3 separate regions of the Homo sapiens genome follow, and all the other regions are linked to region 2. Evidence: fine-mapped expression QTL. A gene starts in region 2. Each other region holds a variant in brackets. All regions are shown on one strand. Distances are between the middles of the regions.

Region 1 (8,000 bases), 21 kb before region 2:
GAGGCTGAGGCAGGAGAATGGCGTAAACCCGGGAGGCAGAGCTTGCAATGAGCTGAGATTGCGCCACTGCACTCCAGCCTGGGCGACAGAGCGAGACTCCATCTCAAAAAAAAAAAAAAAAAAAAAAAAAAAAAAAAAAAAAAAAAAGAAATTACTATTTAGAAACTTTCAGCCTAAATCTCAAGGTTTATAATATATTTAGTTCTCCATCTCACATCACTTGCAATTTAGAATTCTAGACTGTTTAGAATGATTTCTGGGAAATTTTACAATTTATTAATATCAAGGGAGGGACAGGAAGGAGTCACAGCCAAGCTCTGTGACAGCTACCCCCAATGCAGAAAAAAAATCTCACAAAAAGACAAGTTTGTGGCTATCAAAACATTTTATAACTTTGTGGCTCATCTTTTAGACTGACTTTATTTTCTTGTTTCCCATGTATAGCCATAAGAATGACAGGTTAAACAAGTTGATTTCCTGTCAATTATCCTTTAATTCAATTAAGTAGATGAGTTTTCTGTCTTAAGGGGAAAAATACATACATACAACAATCCACTCTCTTCACATGTGACATGGTCATTCTGTAAATGCCTATATATCCAACTGATGTAATCCCAAACAAAATTTAATAAAATAAACCAAGTTAAATTTCCCTCACATTTTGAAGGCATAAGCCTTCAAAAAAGGAATATGTAATAGATTATTTCTGTTTATGTCTTAGCATTATTGTTACACTGAATAATTCATAGTTCATTCAAAATAAGAAAGAATCAAGTTCAACATTAATCATAAAACTGTAAAACAGATGATTTCCAAAATGTGAAACACTGCAATAAATACTCATGGACCTAATGAAGAAGAAATTAAAACCCAACAATTTAAAATATTGATATTAAAATATAATGCTTTTCATTTTTACCTCATCATAGCCAAACAACCATAATCGTGGAGTCTGGTAATATTTATCATAAGTGATGTAAAGGTCATAAGTTCTGGTTTGCAAAATAGCATCTTCACCGCCAGCATCAGTTTTGGCTTTACAAGCTTCTACTATTTTCCTTGTATCTAGGGTAGCCTGAAAATAATAAAAGAGAAAAATTTACAACCATTAAATCGGTATGAATGTGACATTCTAGAAAACTTATTTTTTCCATTCTATATTTTGTTTTCTTAAGAGTAAATGAACTTGGAACTCAAAGCTACGTTTTATATGCTATAATCAATATGAACAAATTAGAATGTCTTTGAAAGATCAATATATTATTAGTAAGAACATGCATCCCCAAGTTCATCCATTAAAAATTAACTAAAGAAAACTCAATTTACAAACCTCATCTGTTTCCAACAATCCACTCTCTTCATATTCTGTTATAAAAAAACAACAAAAGATTAATCAAGTTCAAGTTCAAGAAAATTCCCTAAACCAATTTAAGTATTACTTCATAGTATCATTCAAAAACTGGGGTTTTGCCTTTGTTTTTAAGTGAAGATATTGAATAGATAGATATAAGTGAGCTAATTCTATACTTCCAAAGGCGAAAGCCCAGAGAAAGCCAGCATGTTTAAGGCTTGACATAATAATACTGTAGAGTCCTCAGTGGCTCCACAGTGTACACAAGCCTACTTCTGTAACTGCGTAGTCATCGGTGACCTCTTCTTTGCTGAATCCAGTGGTAAATTCCCAGTTTTCATCTTAATTGACCTATCAGGAACATGTGGCATGATTTAGTCCCTTCTCCTTGGAACATACTTTCTTTCCTTGGCTTTTAAAATATTTTCCTGGCTTTCCTCCCTCATCACTGAGTGCTGTTTCAGTATCTTCTATGCTGGTTCCTCTTCATCACCTCTACTTTAAAAAGAACCATAAAATCAAACGCTGCAGTAACCAAGGGCTCAGTTTCTGGACCTTGTCTCTCCTCTAACCACACTTATTTCTGTAACGATTTCATCCAGACTCAATGACTTCAAATACTGATGACTTTCAAATTTATTCCCTGCCTGCGGACTTGGATTATTTATTTTACGTCTCTACTAAATAACTAATGAACACTGCAAATATCACATGTCTGAAACTGAGTTCCTGACTCCCTCTCCAAAGCTAATCACTTTTGATTTTTCCACATCTCAGTTAATGGTATCTTTCTAGAAGCTCAGGTCAAAAACCTTGGAGTCACCCTTGACTATTCCACTTGTCACATATGACATCCAATCCAGCAGCAAATCTCTTTGGCTCAACCCTCAAAGTATTCCAGCATTCTACTGTTTCTCATCCCTACCAATGTTACGACCCTAGCCCAAGCCACCATCATTTCTTGCCTAGATTATCAAACAGCCTCCTGTTGTCCCTTTCTCCCTTCAGTCTATTCTCACCACTGCACAGTGATTCTGTTGAAATGTCACTCCTCTACTTGAAAAACAAACAAACAAACAAAACCCTCCAATGGCTTGTCTCACTCTGAGTAATGTCAAGACCTTATAGAATCTGGTCCCTGGTTACCTCTCTGACTCCACCCTTTACTACTCTCCCTTCTCTCCTATCTGGACATAAGCATACCTTACAATATTTTACATAAGCCAAACGTGTTCCCACCTCAGTACCTTTGCACTCTTCCCTCAAATACCTAGTTTCATTCACTTCCTTCCAGGCTTTATTTAAATGGCGTGTACTTTCAATTAGGTTTTTCTTGACCAATTTATTTAAAAATTGCAATACTCATTCCCACCCCAAGATTCTCTAACCCCTTTCTTCCTTTATTTTTTCCTTAACACTTATAACTAATACTGTATATATTTTGCTTATCTATTTTTTGTCTCCACTGATTAGAATATAAACTCCATGAAATCATGTCTACTGCTTTATCTCCAACACCAAGGACAATACCTGATAAATACTGTACTGCCCAATAAATATTTGTTCAATAAATGAAAATTACCTTTATATTAGATACCATTAACACAACTGTTGAGCAAAATTACATATATAGCAATTCTTTAACTCTATCTAGGGGGAATATAATAAACATACTAAATGACTATCAGATATTTAAGGCAATCCCACAGCTTGTACTTTGAAAACAGTGCTTTACTCGAAGGGTTCTATGCTACCCCACCACCCCAACTTGGTCAACTATGTCATTCAGAGACAGATGAAATTCAGAAACAATATTTGTCCAAGAAAGTGATGTCAGTTTCTGACAACTATGAGACATCCAGGGGGAAATGAAACTGAAATACATCTGAAGTTGAGAATATCTAGGCTACCTCTAGATATGGAAGTCCCTAGCATACAGATGGTATGTGAGGCTGCTGTGATCAATTTTGGTTACAAGTAATTCATTCAGATTTCCTTAAGGAACAGCAGTTTACCATGAAAATAAGGACAAGAATCTCACTAAAATTTAGGAACAGACATAGCTAGGTTTCATGGGGAATTGAAAGTAATTTTGAAAACAAACAGAAAGGTACTTTTGATCTAGCAAGCATCACTTGCCATTATGGTGTTTCAACTCTACTTGGCACCATCTTCTACTTCTGCATGCTACAAAACACAATCTATCTCACTCTAAAGTCTATGTATTTTTGGCATTCAGCTGCCTTACAGCCTTCAATGCCTGCCTTTTTTTCATATTCCTTTCCTTTTTCCAACTTCTTACACATGCACCCTATTTACATATATAAATATATTCATATTTCAACTCTCACAAAGTACTGGATGTAATTTATACTCTATCTTTCTTGTTGCACAAATTTTCATGCCAAACTACAGAATGCCATTATAGAAGAAAAAATCTGGGAGTACAGAGAGTAAGCAAGGGGAAAAAAAAAAGAAACCCA[C/T]GGAACAGTAACATTTAATAGCTGAGGGAAAGAAAAAGAATCATAGAAGATGACTAGAAGAAAGAGTCCAGGAAAGAGTAAGAAAACCCAGTGTTATAGAAACCAAGAGAGAAAAAAAAAAGAGGAAGATATGGTTAACAGAATCAATGCAGAAAAGGTAAGTGTAATAAAGATAAACTGGATTTAACAAAGAGGTCACCCTGGTGACAGCAATTTTTTCATCTACTTTTAAATATCTGAGGTTTCAAATGTATTGAAAAAGATTATCATGCTCATGAAATACAAAGCTTTGAATAACCATGTGCTCACAGACCCATACTGCTCTGTTCTAGTGGGTTTCTCTCTCTTTTAAGAATGATTCACTAATGCAGTGATTCTCAACTGGCAACTCTAGGAGGAGGACTTTTCAGAATCTTGGGAAACTGATGGGATTCTGTGTAGTTCAAAAGGCCCCATTAGCCAAGCACAGTGGCTCACACCTGTAATCCCAGCACTTTGGGGAGGCCGAGGTGGGCGATCATGAGGTTAAGAGATCGAGACCATCCTGGCCAACATGGTGAAATCCCGTCTCTACTAAAAATACCAAAATTAGCTGGGTGTGGTGGCATGCACCTGTAGTCCCAGTTACTCAGGAGGCAGAGGCAAGAGAATCACCTGAACCTGGGAGACGGCGGTTGCAGTGAGCAGAGATCGCACCACTGCACTCCAGCCTGGCGAGAGTGAGACTCCGTCTCAAAAAAAGAAAAAAAAAAGGCCCCATTGAAACTCACTATCTTCAGGTTTTAATAGAAAGATGCTATCAAAGAGGGAAAAGAAAATACAAAATGCATAATAAGCAAACTTTGTTCTGCTCTGAAATAATTCAGTTAGGAATTAATATCTTGCAGCCGTATCCAGTATTAAATATTTATGACTAATAGTTATTCCAATAAAAATGATATTGTCCAAGACTATGTTTGGAGTAAAATAGAAGAGTCCAAGATCAAGATAAGTTTTACACTAATGAAATTTATGAACTAAACATATATAAAACACTCACTAGGCTGCTAAATGCTAAACTTACAACTCAATGAAGAATTCTTAATCCACATAAATTACAAATATTCTAAATCAATATTCTAGTGGAACTGAAGCAAATCTAGAACAGGAATACCTTCCATATCTGCAGCTTCTCCTTCATCTTCATCTTCTTCCTCTTCACATAGTGCTGAGCAATCTTGAAGCCTTATATTGTCCTTTGAAATTAATTATATTTAAAATCACTTAAGTATATACATTAATTTGAACACTGAACACCCATGTGCTAGCACAGTGGTAACCACTGTGAAAATAAGAATGACAAGGCAGTTCTTGTCCACAAAAACCTTAAACTCCAATGAAGATAATGAATTCATATATCAGTCATTAAAAGTAACGTGCTAAGTGCTGTGACTGAAAAATAACAAAGGTTATTATGGGAGCAGTAAGAGTCATCTAAGCTATTTAAAAATAATTGCCAGTTGCACTTCCAATAAAACAGTATTTTTGGTTAATCAATTCATTAGTATTAGAAAATCAGTTCAAAATTATATTAACTTGTGCACTTATAAGGGGAAAAAGTGCACATATCTGTAAATCAAATATAAGCTAAAATATAAATCAAACACTATTACATTCTAATTTGTTAACAATATCTTAGCTGAATTAGGCAAGTTATCAGACTTTACAGTTATTAAAATGCACAAGATATCAGTTCAATTTCTTAACTATATTAGCTCTAAAGTGAAAGAATATTGATGGACAGGTTTAACATCTGGGTATCGTTTTCACAAAATTAATATTCTGAAAATCTGAAGTCAACATAATAAGTGGATAAACTGAATATTTAGTTTTACCTAGGTTACATTTTACTTAGGGGTGGTTTAATTTAACACTAGAAACTTAAGTCATATGTTTAAAACTTAAATCATTCTTACACCCAAAATTGAAACCACAAAACCACAAAACCATCAGTGTCGGAGTAATTATTATATGAGCTAATATTTAACAAATTAATCATTAAGAAAAAGTTTCATCATATTGGTGATATTTATACTTGATAAAGTAGAATAGAAATTGACAACCAAGATTAATACTTCTGCTTGGATGGCAAGTATTCTAAGTTACAAAAAATACTAAAGGAATTACCATAAGCCCGTCCAAGAAAAACACTACTATCTACACTACTGTGCCATTTATCATTCCCAAAGTCTGAAGCATATATAGTAATGGTCAGAGTAAACAAGATCTTCTAAAACAGCAAAGCAATTTGTGTTATTTCTCCGTAAGTCATTCAAACACTCCAAAAAGTCTAATTTCAAAATGATGAATTCTCAGGCCAAAGAACTAAATCTTAAAGCATAAAACTGTAAATAAAAAAACAAAACAAACAAAAAAAAAACTTGTCTTCGTTTCTATCACTTTCTGTTAAGCCCCAGTAACAAATCTAGAAAGATCCAAATGACAAAAACACACAAAGAATATCTTTAGTAACTGTTGTAGCAAAAGTGTCATAAGACTAGGAACACAATTATTCCATTCAAATAGTCTATCCTCTAAGTGATTTGATGGTTAAAAAAATAATTAAGACAAGGGTGAAAGCATTTTATATTATTTTTTCATATCATTTCAAACAACTACAGGTATATAAAAACATGAAGACAACTGCGGTTGATCTCTCTGAGAAATGAAAAGCTAATCTAATACCTACAACAGCCTAAAATAACTCAAAATTTCCAAGCAAAAAAACTCTACCCAATTATGTTTTACCCCCATAAATCATGCAATAAAACTTAACAGATTAAGCTTCTATTCATTCAAAATGTCATGAATTTGAATGATGCAAGCTAAAGTTTGCTTTCAAATTTTCAAAAACAAATAAACCCCAAATTACCAGTAATTGAAGAAAATACAGAGAGAATGATTAAATTGCTTATGGCACTATTTAAGCTATAAAATTTAAATGTTAATATATCATTAGCATCTACTAGTAAGCAAGTAGTTAATTCCACCCCAACATTCTCCACTTATATGACATTTGGTACTAAATACATTTTAAAACAAAAAAGTCATCTCTTTTAAACTAGCCTAGAAGTTGCTCCAGTCAGTGAAAATTAGTAGTTTGTACAAGTTACAATCTAAAAGCTGTTTTACTTAACCATACTACAAATTAAGGAAAATAAGAGATGCATTAGGCAGCAGTAGTGTTTTGGTGTGTTGAGACAGAAAAATGAATGGGGAAGAAAACAGCTGGAATTTAAAAGAGCTTGATAATAAAAAACCAGGGTTTTTATAAGAAAGATATGGTGATTATATATGTGTGTGTATAGATAGATAGATAGGCAAATAACTACTCATTAAATTTAAAAATATAACTAATTAACCAGTACCTTATTTTCCAGTGTGATCTCTTTAACGGCTTCCGTTATTCCTGTAATACCTATGTAAAATTCGGCAGAAAAGAATAACTAAAATTAAACTGTAAACACCCTATTTACTTATTAAAGCAATATAAAAATGCTGAAAATTCTCACAATTTCTCTGAAATAAGGAGGCAAATAATAGTAGTATCTTTACAAATGAACTCTAATGAGAATAGTCACAATGGCACCTCCTCAAATTTTGAAAAACTCATTAATATTTTACCATGAATTACTTTCCTTGTTTGAATCTCTATCACAACACTTTCTGAGAAACAGAACAGTTTGGCCAGGTGCGGTGGATCACGCCTGTAATCCCAATGCTTTGGGAAGCTGGGGCGGGTGGATCATCTGAGGTCGGAAGTTCAAGACCAGCCTAGCCAACATGGTGAAACCGTTTCTACTAAAAATACAAAAGTTAGCTCAGCGTGGTGGCGTGTGCCTGTAGTCCCCGCTACTTGGGAGGCTGAGACAGGAGAATCGCTTGGACCCGGAAGGTGGAGGTTGCAATGAGCCGAAATCGCACCATTGCACTCCAGCCTGGGCGACAAGAGCGAAACTCCGTCTCAGGGAAAAAAAAAAAAGGAAAGACAAGAGTTTAAAAAAACTACAGGACTCGTATGTACATTTTAATTAAACTTGCATCAAAATTTTCTCAAAAAGCTATTAGTTATCTTAATATAGGCTGATTATCCCTTATCTGAAGTGCTTGGGACCAGAAGTATTTCT
Region 2 (8,264 bases):
TGCAGTGAGCCAAGATCGCGCCACTGTGCTCCAGCCTGGTGACAGAGGGAGACTCCGTCTCAAGAAAAAAAAATTAAAAAAACCACAAAGATTTGGAACTAGACAAATTCCATCACAACTGAAAATTGAAAGATCAGTTAATTCTCTAGCTCCACACCTTGGACCTTAACAGCAGCAGCCTTATCATAAAATAAGGCTTAAAACGTTTGTTTCAAAACAGTGAATAAAGTTCTATTGCCAAAAAGTGGTGTTTTCATTGGCAGAAAAAAAAAAATTCAAGCTTAAATAAATTGTCTCTTATTAAGAACAACCTAAGTCTGATAAAACCATAATTATTCATAAAATTGGAGCCTGAAAAGGTTTTTAGCCCAGTATTTACTTCTCCACCGACAACGAAATAGAACTCTTAAGAGAAAACAATATCTAAGTAGTAAGCAAAGTTTTCCAATGAAAAGCATGAAAACTCACATTTGATGTAAACAGAACCAAGACACCACAGACATTACAGAGCTTACTGCACAGCTCAATATAACACCAATACAAGTCAAGGATAAGTGACATAGGACTCATTTTGATCCCTTCTTTCACCCTCATTTCTAAATAAAGAGGAACTACAGAGAAATATGAGAAGTGGCAAACTGACGGGGAAGTTACATCTTTTCTTCTATGGGAAGTAGAAATTCCCATAAATCACAGTCATAAAACCTAATTTTACTCAAATCAAAATTAAAGTTCAAGATGTTTTCTTATGAAGCAGAAAAGCCACCTAGTTTAGTATTATTGTAAAATAAAAAGACTTCAGTATATCTTCAGCACTCACCTCTTCTGGGGTAATTACACCTGTTTCCTTAAACTTTGATTCCTAAAAAAAGCAGAAAGAAAAACAATATTATATCATGTTTCACTATCAATTAAATATATTTTGGGGGCAATTATTTGCCTGGTGCCCTTCTAGGCAATAGAGCACATACAAAAAAAAATTAGTCTATCTATCTAATCTATAATCTATCTAATCTACCTATCTACCTACCTCATTGGTATCTATCTATATCTATCTATCTGTTTCACTCACTGGTAATGACCACAGGAATATACAAGTCTAATGTAGGAAACAGACATGAAAATAATTATAATACTATCAGATCAGTGCTATAATAGAGTAAAGCTCTATGTAGAAACATTCTTTTTTTTTTTTTTTAAGATGGAGTTTCACTCCTGTTGCCCAGGCTGGAGTGCAGTGGCGCCATCTTGGCTCACGGCAACCTCCACCTCCCGGGTTCAAGCGATTCTCCTGCCTCAGCCTCCTGCCTGTAGCTGGGATTACAGGCATGTGCCACCATGCCCGGCTAATTTTTGCATTTTTAGTAGAGACAGGGTTTCTCCATGTTTGTCAGGCTGGTCTCGAACTCCTGACCTCAGGTGATCCACCCGCCTCGGCCTCCCAATGTGCTGGGATTACAGGCGTGAGCCACTGCGCCCGGCCAAGCTCTATGTACAAACATTCTAAGATTTAAATAAAAATAAAGCCTTACAGTGATTCTGTGAAATGAACAAATACCTTTATTTTACAGCACAGCAAAAATGTCTTAAAGATGTTTAGACATCTTACAATTCAGCCAGTCTTATTTAAACTGAATAATGTTAGAAACCAAATCTAGAAATTATTTAGCATTTTCCTCTAATTCTCATCTCCACCAAGATACTGACACACTATTCTCTAAATTTTTCTAAACTTTAAGTTATATGTAAGATTTTCTGGTAGAGTCTACAAAAATGAAAACACTCATTTATAAACATTATTCATTCAACAAATGTTTACTATGTGCCAGACACTATTTGAGGCAGTGGGGATATTTGGGGGTGAATAACATAAATACAAATTTATTCTTGCCCTCATAAGGAGTTTCAACTCCAGTTGAGGAAGAAAAGCCAAATGGTAATGAATAACATACCATAAAGAAAAATGAAGCTGAGAGGAATCTGTGGGGTGGCTGGGGAGAGATGGCCATTTAAAATAGAATGGTAAGAGAACAAAGACTTCACTGAATAATGACTTAAAAACCTTAAGGAAAGGAACATGCCATAAGGCTGTTAAGTGCGAAGCGCGTTTCAGATAGAGGGAAGAGCACATGCAAAACCCCAAACCAAGAGTGTGCTTAACAGAATAATAAAGAGATCAGGTTAGCTTAAGCAACAGCAGTCAGGGGATGGAGCAGATGAGATTGGGGCCTCTACCAATTAAGCAGAACCTTAGAGATGATTGTAAGAACTTCAGTGTTTACTGCATGTACATACTCCAAACAAAACATGATTTTTCTTAATTTTTACTTGCTAGGAGAAGGCTATTACTTATTTCCTGAGGATTTTGTTCTTTCTCCTTGCCCTCCCTAAGCAGGAAACTGTAAGGATTCTCTCTGTAAACAACAGTTTGCACAGGAGTATCAAGGAGACGGTCATTCATTCTTTCCTTTTTACTAAAGACATATACCATACATACTGACATGCCAACAGTTCCTTTTCAGTTTGGTGAGCAAGTATGATGGACTCCTGAAAACATAATTCTACATCATACATTTTATATTTCATTTGGGCAGTCTCTTGCTCCTCTCTCCCGGAAACTAAAAAGTTGTACAATGGTGTATTATTAAAATACTGTATACCTAGGTAGATATGATATTCTGAAAAGTTAACATAATTATGTAAAAGCATTTGATTCAAATGTGAAAATTATTTTCCAATCTTAGTTTGACTGAATAATCTTAAAATGACTTTCACAGTAAACAAATGTAAGCAAAGCAACAGTTGAAATTCTCATTTATAATCGCTGGTTTATTTCTTACTTGGCCAATAAGTTATTCTTTTAAAAGGAGCTTTACAAAAACGTATTTTAAAAAGTATAGACCTAGTACTTCCCTTTGTCATGGAAAGGGAGCAAAGCAAAACTCTCCACTATTCTTAGCATATTAAGGTATTTCACCCCCACACTGAGATTGGTACATTCTAACTGAAAGCTTAAAAACAACTAGAAAAAAAAAACAAAAACTAAGCAAGAACTTCCCATTAATTTACTATTCTTGCTCACTTTTCAGAAAGCAAAAATGAAGTTACAACAAAACACTCCAAAAGAGTTATAAAAGAAAAGCTTGAAGGCAGTTGTAGAAATTTACCTTTAAAAAAAAAATCAGTCACTACTGTAACAGCTAATGTGTCACAATTTTTTACTTTAAAAATGCTGTACTGTTGCCAATATATTTTTAAAAATTATACAGCCAGGAAGGTCAAACCGTGCCTTGTTATCACTAATAACCAGCTACGGCTATCTGAAAAGCTTGGGAAAAAGGTTTTGCTCGTTAGATGGGTTCAAGGTTACTGAATGAGATAATGTTGCCAATTTCACCTCCTTCCTCTGAAATCTAAACGAGTTGGGATCGCAGTCACAACTTCCCCACTACAGCGGACTTTCATGAAACTTAAAGGAAAAGTGACCTCACCTCAGGTCTCTTTTGACCTCTGTGTGTCAAACACTAAATTCATTTTTTAAAGAGAAGCAAAATCCTTGCTTAAAAAGGCTAAAAGACTTCCAGTGTTTGGATTTAACGTTCTTCAATCTACTCAGCCTCCGAACACCCTTCCAACCCGACGTACCCGACCGCGCAGAGTTATGACGGGAGAAGGCAGGAACACGCAGAGCGTCGCTCCAAGTTTACCCCTGAGGAGTCAGAAAGCCCTAACGAACAGCCGGTTAAGACTACGGGTGGGGGCTGCACACTTCCCTGTGTCTCGAGCCCTACTGCCTTCCTACACCTTGCCCCGCCGGAGAAAGCGGGGACTCCTGCGGCGCCTGGTCCCTGAAAAGTCGAGCATGTGCCTGACAGCTCCCGGCAACCCTGGCCTGGCTTACCTTGAGGACCGGGGTCAGGTACTCAGCCACTTCCAGTGCCTTTCCCTTCACAGTATTAATCACATTCTGCATCCTGGGGCCGGAGTAGCGGCCGGCCCCGCGACGGGATGGAAAGTGCAGCCGTGTCAGGGGCCAGGGAGTCAGAAAATGTCCTCGCTGCCACCGACTCGCATCAGCACCCGGCTGGCAGCACCCGAGGGGACGGGACGCGACGCGACGGGACGGGCGGGACGAGGGGGCGGGGCGGCAGGCACAGCGCGCGAAGACGGGGTGCGCGATCCTCGCACCCCAGGCAGCCCGCGACGGACCGGACCCAGCTGTCACCCAGCCGCGAGGGAGGGCAGCGGGGCCGAAGGGAGACCTGAGGTGAGAAGCGGACGCACACGCACCCCTCGCCCTCTGCGAGCTGTCTGTCCTCGCTTTGCTTCACTCGCGCCCCTTCCGGCTTCCCTTCCTTCTCACTCTCTTGCCGTAGCTGCGCCGCCACCGGGGCCTCACGTGACACTAGACTCTCCCGGCACGTGACGTGAGAAAGGGGCCGGGCTGGGGCGGGATAAGCCGCTTCTCCCCTCCTTCCGGAAGCGTAACACTGAACGTGCCTGCGCAATGGGTGTCGGGTCCGCTTTTTCCCAATCCGGACGTAATCGTGGTTTTTGTTCTGCAATAGGCGGCTTAGAGGGAGGGGCTTTTTCGCCTATACCTACTGTAGCTTCTCCACGTATGGACCCTAAAGGCTACTGCTGCTACTACGGGGCTAGACAGTTACTGTCTCAGCTCTAGGATGTGCGTTCTTCCACTAGAAGCTCTTCTGAGGGAGGTAACCGCGCCCCGCGGGCAAGGAATTGCGCCTGCGTCTGAGGGGAGGGTGCGCCAGTGAAGAGCCCTACTGCGCATGTGTGACTAGAAGGGTAGTCCCTGACTGTGAAGGGAAATCTGGCCCCCTCCTGTCGGGGAGGCGTCCTGTAGGCGTGCGCCCAATGGGGCTGTCAGTATTGGCATTTCTCCCCACTCCCCGCAGGCTCTATGCGCTATTCCTACAGTACGCTGGGAGGCTTTGGGCAAGTTACTTACCCAACCTGGGGTTTAGTGTCCTCAGCCTATCAAAAGAGGGCCTTAGATTCATTGATTTCTACGATCTCCTCCATTTCAAACACTAACTAGTTCAGTAAAACTTTACAGCAGTGTTTCAGATATTTCCATTTTGGTCGTTATTGTAATGAAGTCTGTCCTAATAAGCTTTTTCCTCCGAGGGAAAAGAGGAGGAAAATACAATTCTGAAAGCCTTATCTTACAGCAAAATTATTTACTAATAAGAGTAAAAGCGAGGCCGGGCGCGGTGGCTCACGCCTGTAATCCCAGCACTTTGGGAGGCAGAGGCGGGCGGATCACAGTCAGGAGTTCGAGACCAGCCTGGCCAACATAGTGAAACCCCGTCTCTACTAAAAATACAAAAATTAGCCGGGCGTGGTGGCGGGCGCTTGTAGTCCCAGCTATTCTGGAGGCTGACGCAGGAGAATCGCTTGAGTCCGGTAGGTAGGGGTTGCAGTGAGCCAAGACCGCGCCGTTGCACTCCAGCCTGGGTGACAGAGCGAGACTCCGTCTCAAAATACATAAATAAATAAAATTTAAAAATAAAATTCAAAATTGCTTTGAAGAATTCTTTTCTGCTGTTGCAAAGTGTCATTTGCTCACCTGCTACCTTTGTCAGCAGGTCTAATCTGGTTCTACGTTTTCTGTCTCCAGAGTACTCCCTCTTATCAGATTTTCACTTTCCTTTTGTCATAGTTTCTTTATGCCTCAACTTTCTTGGTGCTGATATAGTCATAGCCAAAATTTTTTAAAAATTCCTTTTTTGTCCTCACGATCAATGGTATTTGCGTTTAGGGTCTGCCAACAAGGTCGTTCATGAAAGTGTTTTTCTCTTTAAGGTAATTAAAAAACAGTGGAATGGAAAAACAGTGCTGTAGTCATCCTGTAATATGCTCCTTGTCAACAATGTATACATTCCTGCTAGGTGCCATATTCATTGCTTTAAGCTCAAGTCGCATCTTACTAGTGAAGTATTCTGCCAATGAAGGTAAGTTAAGACTTGGTATATGCATGGAGCACTTCCATCTAATCACACATCTCTCTCTTGCCTTTGGTTCTGTTATATATAACATGGAAATAATAATGCCTTTTGCTTCATGTGAGTGATAAAGCATATTTAAATTTGATTATTTAACCTTGCATTCCTCAACAAGAAAAAATGTTTGATAATGGATGAAATGTGAGTCAATCAGATACAAAAATCAAACCCTTTGGTGAAGAACCAGTCGTAACATTTGACTGTTAATTCAATCAACAGGTGTTTCTGGACCTATAGCAAAATGTGTAATTGCGCCTTATTTTGAAGTAGAAGGATATATTTGTTTGGTCACTTGGCATTTGTGAGGTACTTACTATTGTAATTATTGTATCAATGGTAAGGTGTCAGCATTATATTGTGCGGTCATATTGTATCAACAGTATAAATTATAAGCTTTGATAAGTATGTATTTAAGAAATCTTTTTTTATGTAGGGATTTAAGCAAACACTTTAATTCCACAAAACTGTATTGAGTACTTCTTACTAGTTATTGAGTGAAGGGGTGGGTTGCCCCTCCACATCTGTGGGTGTTTCTCGTTAGGTGGAACGAGAGACTTGGAAAAGAAAGGGACATAGACAAAGTATAGAGAAAGAAAAAAGGGGGCCCAGGGGACCGGCGCTCAGCACACGGAGGATCTCTGCCAGCCTCTGAGTTCCATTAGTATTTATTGATCATTATTGGGTGTTTCTCGGAGAGTGGGATGTGGCAGGATCATAGGATAGTAGTGGAGAGAGGGTCAACAGGTAAACACGTGAACAAAGGTCTCTGCATCATAAACAAGGTAAAGAATTAAGTGCTTTGCTTTAGATATGTATACACATAAACATTTCAATGCCTTAAAGAGCAGTATTGTTGCCCGCATGTCCCACCTCCAGCCCTAAGGCGGTTTTCCCCTATCTCAGTAGATGGAATATACAATCGGGTTTTACTCCGAGACATTCCATTGCCCAGGGACGAGCAGGAGACAGATGCCTTCCTCTTGTCTCAACTGCAAAGAGGCGTTCCTTCCTCTTTTACTAATCCTCCTCAGCACAGACCCTTTACAGGTGTCGGGCTGGGGGACGGTCAGGTCTTTCCCTTCCCACGAGGCCATATTTCAGACTATCACATGGGGAGAAACCTTGGACAATACCTGGCTTTCCTAGGCAGAGGTCGCTGCGGCTTTCCACAGTGTTTTGTGTCCCTGCGTACTTGAGATTAGGGAGTGGTGATGACTCTTAACGAGCATGCTGCCTTCAAGCATTTGTTTAACAAAGCACATCTTGCACAGCCCTTAATCCATTTAACCCTGAGTTGACACAGCACCTGTTTCAGGGAGCACAGGGTTGGGGGTAAGGTTACAGATTGCAGAACAAAATGGAGTCTCCTATGTCTACTTCTTTCTACACAGACACAGTAACAATCTGATCTCTCTTTTCCCCACAATTGAGGACACATACAATCATGATATGACCTTTAATGGTCTACTACTTGGAGAGTCAGATGTGTACCCAAGTCTCTACTGCAGTTAACATTTACCTGCCAGGCACTAGGCTAAGTATTAGCAGCAGGTTCAAAGTGCATAAGATATAGACCTTGTCCTCAAGACTTAGTTTATTAGGAGAGACATGAATGTAAACACATCATGAAAATCCATTATAATAACTGCAATAATTGATATATCCTGAAGATGCAGAGATTGTCTAGAGGATAAAGTTATATATTCTGTTTGGTAGGGGATGATGTGGAGTTCAAATGGATCAGAGAACACTTCGCTGATTAGAAGTCAGTTGATCCACTAGAAGTCAAGGTGAACAAGGGGATTCAAAACAGAGGCAACAGCCTGTAAAAGGGAACAGAGGCATAAAAAAGCAGGATATGTTGTGAGAATATGTAGTTTGAAATTACCAAGCAAAAAGTTTAAGGACTCGTAGCCAGGCACAGTGGCTCATGCTGTAATCCCAGCACTTTAGGAGGCCAAGGCCGGCGGATCACTTGAGGTCAGGAATTTGAGACCAGGCTGGCCAACATGGTGAAACCCATCTCTACTAGAAATACAAAAAATTAGCTGGGTTTGTTGGCGTGTGCCTGTAATCCCAGCTATGAGGGAGACTGAAGCAGGAGAATGAACCCGGGAGGCAGAGATTGCAGTGAGCCGAGATCATGCCACTGCACTCCAGCCTGGGCAACAGAGCAAAACTGTCTCAAGAAAAAAGAAAAAAAAAAGTTTAAGGACTCAGAAGAAAGAGAAGGAG
Region 3 (8,283 bases), 41 kb after region 2:
CCACCTAATCAACTGTAGTCATCTGAGAGCCAGAATTATTATTGATAGAGGGGCCTGGGAAAGGAGAAAAGGACCAGGAGAGAGGAAGGTATACTTATTGCAGAGGAGAAAAGCCAAAGAACGTTTGCCCATGGGCAGTCTTAGCTATTTAAAATCACCCACTTCTTCATCCGGCTCCCTTGGCATATGTATCAGCCCATGGATTGGGAGGTGTAGGACCATTCTTTTTCTTTCTGGAAGGAAAGCACTGACATTTAAGCTCTGTGCGGTCTGCTCAGGGGCTGCCCAGTTTGTCCAAGCTTTAGGATATTAGAGAGATTACGCATTTGTGGTCTCAAGTTAGGAAACTGTTGAAGAACAAATATGTCCCTTATTAGAGGGCCTCTTTAGATGTTTAGGGTACTCACAATCCTTGCCAACCTGATGTCCTTGGAAGCTCCAGTCTGGCTGTAAGGAGATGATGAGGGGTTCTGTGTGTTGGAGGTGATGACCTCATTGAGTCTCAGCCACAGCAGGGCATTATGCAGGAAAGAATTCAATGGAGTTATTTAATACCTTTCCCTATTCCCACAAAAATCTGGAACTGGGTTCTGAACTGAGAAGTCTGGGTTCCCTGAGAATTGGACATCAGTTCAACCACAGGAAGCCTCTAAATTTAGCACTCTACTCACAGAGGGCCAAGAAAAATTCACAAATGTCACAAACTTAGGAACTTAGGTATCTAGTCTTCTCTGTCATTTTGTAATGAGAAACTGAGGCCCATAGGTAAAACATCTCACCTCCAGTCACACAGGTAAGTACATGGCAGGGCAAGGACAGGCACCCAGTTTTCCCAAGTCCAGTGGCCTTTTCATGATACCCATTTCTGTGTATCATTTCATTGATTTCTGTGACAGCTGGCCCTTTGCCCCTCATCACCAAATCTTAACTCTTTGGACTTTAATAATGTGCAAAATTAAGAGGAAGTCTGGCATCGGGAGCTTTACACAACTCAGAGAGAACTGAGGAAAGTAGTTAGCATGTTAACTGTGCCTCACCTTGACCTGAAGTGAAGAGCACTCACCAAGCCACAACCTGCTATCTGCACACCCCACACCATGAGGTAAAGGACAGCCAAGGAAGAGAAAGGAAAGAAAAGCAATCCGGCAGGGAGATCAGGGAGCGAAACGAACAGAGAAACGAACAGAGGTTTTTTCCAAGGGCCTTCTATTTTTCTACAATCTCCACACATTCAGTACTGAGACACATTAAGAAGGGCCCACTGAGGCCATCATTCACCCTACTCTCGGGCTGCTTCCATCCTCCAGGCTTCTAGAAGTTGAGAAAGTATGAGCTTCATTGTTAATTATATTACAGAAAATGGGACCAGCTGGGTTGCACCCACTCCCCTGTGTCTGGACCTCCTGCCTATGTAGCAGAAAAGGATCTTTCTGCTGAATTAATATTCACCTCAGAGCCCTGGGAGATGTCTGATGAAAAGTAGTTTTTGAAGAGTCTTGTGACAACCAGCAATTTCGGCAAAGCTATGTCCTCAAGAGTCTTCCAGATTTCCCCAACTCTACAGAATGCTTTTCTTTTTAAATACCATAATCCCATAATCTTTCTCAAAAATTATAAAACTGTATTTTATTTTTCTCATTTATTTGGGAGTTTGGTAAGAAACGTTTGGGAAGAAATGCTTTTATGGAGAAACTACTCAGATTTGAAACTACCTAGTTTATACTACCAGAAGACAGAGATTCAGGTTAGCTAGTTTGCTAATCCTCACAGTTTCAGAGATATGCCTTGTATTTTTCCAGATTATAGGCTTTGAGGACATTCACCAATAGCATCCTCCTCTGAATGTATTTTGGTCCTTTTGCTAAGCTATGTCTTATTTTATAGTCCTCCAAATGATGATCTATGACTTCTCTGCCTGCTCATTAGAGGAAGAAAAGCTCAGATGCATTGCTAACTATTATTTCAATGCCAGTGGAACTGGAGAAATGCTTGAAAAAGTAATCTCAGGTTGTAAAAAAGAACTATCTTTTTTTGGTTGCAGGAGCTAGAACCCTATTATTCTGAGAGTAAATTTTCTATTATTCCTATCTAATTCATTTTCTTGGGAGATGAAACTCCCTCTTTTTTTTGGTGGGGAGACAGGGTCTCACTTTGTCACCCAGGATGATGATGATGGAGTGCTGTGGCACGATCACGGCACACTGAAGCCTCGACCTCCTAGGCTCAAGCGATTCTCTCACTTCAGCCTCCTGAATAGCTGGGACCACAGACACACACCACCTTACCCAGCTAATTTTTTGTATTTTTTTGTAGAGACAGGGTTTTGCCGTGTTGCCCAGGCTGGTCTCGAAGTCCTGGGCTCAAGCGACCCGCTCACCTTGGCCTCCCAAAGTGCTGGGATTACAGGTGTGAGCCCCTCACTGCTCCTGGCTCCCTCATTATTATATTTCCTGAAGTTGACATGATTTGGGTCCTTTACTTAGAAATTGTCATCACACAATTTCAGAAAGGTAAAGAAATCCATTTTTATTGGCAACTTTGGGCTATGCTTCATCCTGGCAAAAATTTAAAAGCAGTACACTTCGACGTGGCTCACTTTCCTGCACACCTCAGGCAGCTTGTACAGACTATCCAAGAAAAAATGAGGAGGAAAGTGCTCCATCAAGGAAGAGGGATGAGATGGGAGCATAATTCACACACTAAGAACTGAGTTCTAAAGTCACTTGAGCTTTCTGGAGCTCAGTTACCTGTAAAACAAGGAAGAATGAATGGTCTTTATGGAAAATGAATGGCAGAATAAGTGATTTGTCAAGTTCATTGAACTATAAATTCCATTTTTACTGTCATTTATTTATAACAAAGTTCAGATATAAAGAAAAATCTGAACATACAGTAGGCACAGATAAACCTATAGCAAATATTCACATGTGGTTTGAATGCATTTATTAATCTCTGTACTTATTAGAATTAATAATAATACTAAAATGATTTGGAGAATTAATGATTAATAACAGTGGAAAATAGCCTTCCCATTATTGTTAGAGGATGGTGCCATCATGATGCTAAATGCCTATCTGAGGGGAAGCTCATAAATATTACTTGACAATATTACTTGATAAATATTTGTTGAAAAAAGAAATGTAGTAAAGAAGCAAGGATGGCTGGGCATGGTGGAGCATGGCTGTGGTCCCAGCTAACTTGGGATGCTGAGGTGGGAGGATTGTTTGAGGGAAGCTGAGTTTGCAGTGAGCCAAGATTGCACTACTGCACTGCAGCCTGGGTGACAGAGTGAGACCCTCTCCAAAAAAAGAAAAAAAAAAAGAGAAAAAAAAGAAGCAGCAGCAACGAAAGGAGGGAGGAAGGGAGAAAGTTTACTTTGATATGCCATATGATTGAAACAAATGCTCTTTTTTCAAAGACAAGGATTATACTCCTTTGCATTCCAGCTACTTTGGTCCATTGTAACTTGGTAACCTTTGCCTTGAAAACAAAAAGAATCCCTGGATATAATCTCCTTCCTTGTAATTTTTTTTATAAGATGCCAGTATGGTAATAGGTCCATTAGCAAGTAAGTACAGGCACATCTTATTTTATTATACTTCTCAGATACTGCATTTTTTACAAATTGAAGGTTTGTGGCAACCCTGCATCAAGGAAGTCTGTTGACATCATTTTTGCAATAGTATGTACTCACTTTATGTCTCTGTGTCACATTTTGGTAATTCTTGCCATATTTCACACTGTTTCATTATTATCTCTGTTATTAAAATCTGTAGTCAACGATCTTTGATGTTGCTATTATAATTACTGGGGGCACCATGAACCACACTTATATAACACAGTAAACTTAATAAATGTGTGTATGTTCTGATTGCTCCAACAACCAACCTTTCTCCAATCTTTCTCCTTCTTCTCAGGCCTCCTTAGTCCCTGAGACACAATATTGAAAGTAGATCAATTAATAACCCTAAAATAGCCTCCAGGTATTTCAAGTGAGAGGAAGTTGCAATCTTTCACTTTAAATCAAAAGCTAGAAATGAATAAGCTTAGTGAGGAAGGTGTGTCAAAAGCTGAGACAGGCTGAAAGCTAAGCCTCTTATGCCAAACAACCAAGTTGTAAATGCAAAGGAAAAGTTCTTGAAGGAAATTAAAAGTGCTACTTTGTGAATGCATGAATGATAAAAAAGTAAAACAGCCTTA[C/T]TGCTGATATGGAGAAACTTTGAGTCATCTGAATAGAAGATCAAGCCAGCCACAAAATTCCCTTAAGCCAAAGCCTAGTTCAGAGCAAGGCCCTAACTCTCTTCAATTCTATGAAAGCTAAAGGGAGGTGAGGAAGCTTCAGAAAAAAAGTTTGAAGGTAGCAGAGTCTGGTTCATGAGTTTGAAGAAAAGAAGCCTTGTGCATCCATAAAAGTGCAAAGTAAAGCAGCAAATGTTGATGTAGAAGCTGCAGTAAGTTATCCAGAAGATCTAGTTAAGATAATTAATGAAAGTGGCTACACTAAACAATAGATTTTCAAAAGAGATGAAACAGCCTTATATTGGAAGAAGATGCCATCTCAGACTTACGTATCTAGAGAGGAGTAGTCAATGCCTCACTTCAAAGCTTCAACCAACAGGCTTACTCCTTGTTAGAAGTTAACGCAGCTGGTGATTTTAAGTTGAAATCAATGCTCATTTACCATTTCCCCAAATCCTACGACTTTTCAGAATTATGCTAAATCTAATCTGCCTGTGCTCTATAAATGGAGCAACAAAGCCTGAATGACAGCATGTCTATGGACAGCATGGTTTACTGGACATTTTAAGCTCACTTTTTGAGTCTTACTGCTCAGAAAAAAAAAGAATCTTTTAAAAATATTGCTGTTCGGGCCGGGCGCAGTGGCTCATGCCTGTAATCCCAGCACTTTGGGAGGCCGAGGCCAAAGTCAGTAGTTCGAGACCACCCTGACTAACATGGTGAAACCCCATCTCTACTAAAAATACAAAAATAAGCTGGGTGTAGTGGTGGGCGCCTGTAAATCCAGCTACTCAGGGGTCTGAGGCAGGAGAATCACTTGAACCCCGGAGGCAGAGGTTGCAGTGAGCCAAGATCGCACCACTGCACTCCAGCCTGGGTGACAGAGCGAGACTCCATCTCGAAAAAAATATATATATATATAATATATATTATATATTTTATATATGTATATAAAATATATATATAAATGATCAGTTCCAGACCACTATAATATATATATATATAGCTGTTCACTGACAATATACCCAGTCACCCAAGAACTTGGATAGAGATATACAAGGAGATTAATATTTTCGTGCCTGCTAACACAATACCTATTGTGCAGCACAGGAATCAAGGAGTCATTTGCACTTTTCGTAAGACTATAACTGTCACAGATTGTGATCCCGCTAATGGATCTGGGCAAAGCAAATTAAAAACCTGGAAAGGATTCACCATTCTAGATGCTGTTAAGAACATCGTGATTCATGGGAGAAGGTCAAAATAGGAAGATCAATGAGTTCGGAAACTGATTCCATCCCTCATGGATGATTTTAAGAGGCCCAAGACTTCATTGGAGGAAGCTCTGCTATAGACATAGTGGAAATAGCAAGAGAACTGGAATTAGAAGTGGAGCCTGAAGATGTGACTGAATTGCTGCAATCTCATTACAAAAGTTTAATAGATGAAGACTTGCTTCTTATGAATGAACGAAGAAAGTGATTTCTTGAGATGGAATCTACTCGCGTAAGTTGCTATGTACATTATTGAAATGACAACAAAGGATTTACAACATTACATAAATTTCATTAATAAAGCAGCAACAGGGTTTGAGAGGATTGGCTCCAATTTCAAAAGAAGTTGTACTACTGGTAAAATGCTATCATACAGCATCACATGCTGCAGAGAAATCTTTCATGAAGAAAAAGTCAATCGAAGTGGCAAACTTCATTGCTGTCTTATTTTAAGAAATTGCCACCATCACCCCCAACCTTCAGTAACCACCACCCTGATCATTCAGCAGCCATCAACATCAATGCAAAAAGATTATGATCATTAGCAATTTTTAGCAATAAAGTATTTTTAAAATAAAACATGTACATTTTTTGGACATAAAGCTATTATACACTTAATAGACTACTAAAGAGTGTAAACATAACTTTTATATGCACTGAGAAACCAAAAATTTTGTGTGACTCACTTTATTGCGATATCCACTTTATTATGGTGGTCTGGAACTGATCCTGTAATATCTCCATGGTATGCCTGTGCTGTACAGGGGGTAAAGTGTGAGGGGTCAAGAATTTTCATGCCAGAAATTCCATAGCAGCCTACTAGAACTCTGGAAGTATCGCCTTTGGCTGCAGTGCCAGATTCTGGTGAGGATTTCCTGGACCCCGATTTATATCTGAAAAAACACTAAAAATAACAGAAGCAGGGCAGGAAGTGGCTATGATAACAAAGCTGGGCTTGGTACTTTCTCTGGCTTTTGTGGCCAATATTACTGGACTCCCGTGGTATCAAGTTTCATAAAAGAAACTCATACAAAGCAGAGATATCTTAATTATTTTCAGACTGGCATTTCAAAAAGTGTCAATTTAAGTAAGTATTATAAGTTATTTGTTCTTTGTTTTATCTTTTCAGATGTTTCTTGAAAACATTGTGGTGTGATCTTTAACAGAGTTTTCACTTACCAATTAATACAAAAAATAAGAAAAAGCTTTAAATACATATTTTATAAAATTTTATATGCCAAATAAGGTCCTTCATATAAGAAAAGGAAAATAATATCAATTTTCAGTACTATTATTTAGCACTAGAGCCCCTCCAGTTAGAAAAACAATTCTTTTAAATGTCTTTATGATTTGAGGTTTCAATAATAACTCATGAATAGGTGAAAGTTTGCTATTTATTTAGTCTTAGAAAAACACTGAAAGAAAAAGGCAGGAAATGTAGTACGCAGTGTGGAAGAATGGAGCTGGCCACATGTAGTTTTAGCAGCTGCAGAGGAAACTGGCTGAGTCTAAGGTTACATATTTCTGCTCAGTAAGGGTATCCATGGTGATAACTCTCATGATGACGGTAGTCATCCTGGTAACCATCCTGGTATCCTTGGTGGTAACTATGGTAACCATAGCCTGCATACTCATCTTCTGGGCAGCGCATCCCCAGTGACTGCTGAATCGCCATTTCCTGTCTCCGAAGTTGCATCGAATCAATTAAATCGTACACAATCACCATGGACCACATTGGGGAAGGATACCAGGATTTGACATTTCCGTCTTTTCCGACTAGAAGCATGGAGAAGTACTCCGGGCTCACTTGAAAATAGTTACGAATGTCTTTCACCAAATGGGCTGGTACGTCTTCTCGCTCAACAACAGAGCTCCCTAGAATAACATTGGAATAGTTATTGTTAGTAGATTAAACAGTCAGAGCCCATGAAAACATTAAAGTGTGAGGAAATTACTGTGAGAATAGGGAGGACCCATGAGCCTCTTCTCTTTAGTTCAAAATCTAATTAAAGAAGTTTGCTGGGGCTTTTTCTACTAGAAATTAAATGTCCCTGCTTTCTGCAACACGATTAGGGTCAAACTTTGGGGCACTCGATGTGTCTTTTGTAGGAATGTTACAAAGTATAAAACCAATTCCTTAATTTAATCCTGGCAAGACTAATTTCTTTAAAATTTGTCACTAACAAGGATTATATAGTTTATCTTTCTAAGTTTATTTCCAATTAGCTTAGTTACTTCTCTGTAACTACAGCTTACCTTTTGACACATCTTAATGATAAAAAGCTTATTTCATTGTTAAAAGTGAAAATATCAATTCTGTTAAGATCTAGAGGAATATTTAAACTATTGTGAATAGTGAAAAGAATAGAGGGGAAGGAGAAAAGGAGCTGACACTTTCAAGTCTGCTGTGTCCGGCATTCTGCCAAGTATTTTACACACATTATTTAAAGAGCTTGGTCTTGGAAGAAAGGACTGGATTTGCTTTCTGAAAACTTCAGTCAAGAGTCTTTTTTTGTTTTGTTTTGTTTTGTTTTGTTTTGTTTTGTTTTGTTTTTGAGATGGAGTCTTGCTCTGTCACCCAGGCTGGAGTGCAGTGGTGTGATCTCGGCTCACCGCAATCTCCACCTCCGAGGTTCAAGCGATTGTCCTACCTCAGCCTCCCAGGTAGCTGGGACTACAGGCGCATGCCACCATGCCTGGCTAATTTTTGTATTTTTAGTAGAGACGGATTTTACCATGTTGGCCAGGCTGGTTTCGAACTCCTGACCTC

Evidence for each region. PIP is the estimated chance that this variant, and not a neighbour inherited with it, causes the effect.
Region 1: its variant is the best candidate, but not a certain one, in a credible set for the expression of SLC35A5 in whole blood (INTERVAL, PIP 0.74).
Region 3: its variant is the best candidate, but not a certain one, in a credible set for the expression of SLC35A5 in T cells (TOPMed, PIP 0.89).

What each region holds. Positions count from the first base shown.
Region 1 is chr3:112,536,816-112,544,815 of GRCh38, forward strand. ATG3 (autophagy related 3) reads right to left here. Exons shown (of 12, transcript NM_022488.5): 6 at 7,242-7,291; 7 at 4,988-5,069; 8 at 1,331-1,365; 9 at 920-1,075. Among named protein-coding and RNA genes, the nearest start is that of ATG3, 21 kb to the right of the region's middle. RefSeq lists enhancers at 3,238-3,287, 3,368-3,457. The variant C/T (reference allele first, on the strand shown) is at 3,835.
Region 2 is chr3:112,557,556-112,565,819 of GRCh38, forward strand. It overlaps SLC35A5 (solute carrier family 35 member A5), which reads left to right and starts at 4,490. Exons shown (of 7, transcript NM_017945.5): 1 at 4,490-4,718; 2 at 5,830-5,978. The coding sequence starts at 5,849. ATG3 (autophagy related 3) reads right to left here and starts at 4,407. Exons shown (of 12, transcript NM_022488.5): 1 at 3,902-4,407; 2 at 821-862. The coding sequence starts at 3,973. RefSeq lists enhancers at 3,169-3,978, 3,979-4,788, 6,409-7,218, 7,219-8,028.
Region 3 is chr3:112,598,376-112,606,658 of GRCh38, forward strand. CCDC80 (coiled-coil domain containing 80) reads right to left here. Exons shown (of 8, transcript NM_199511.3): 8 at 1-7,388. The coding sequence ends at 7,042. Among named protein-coding and RNA genes, the nearest start is that of CCDC80, 39 kb to the right of the region's middle. RefSeq lists an enhancer at 5,513-5,682. The variant C/T (reference allele first, on the strand shown) is at 4,201.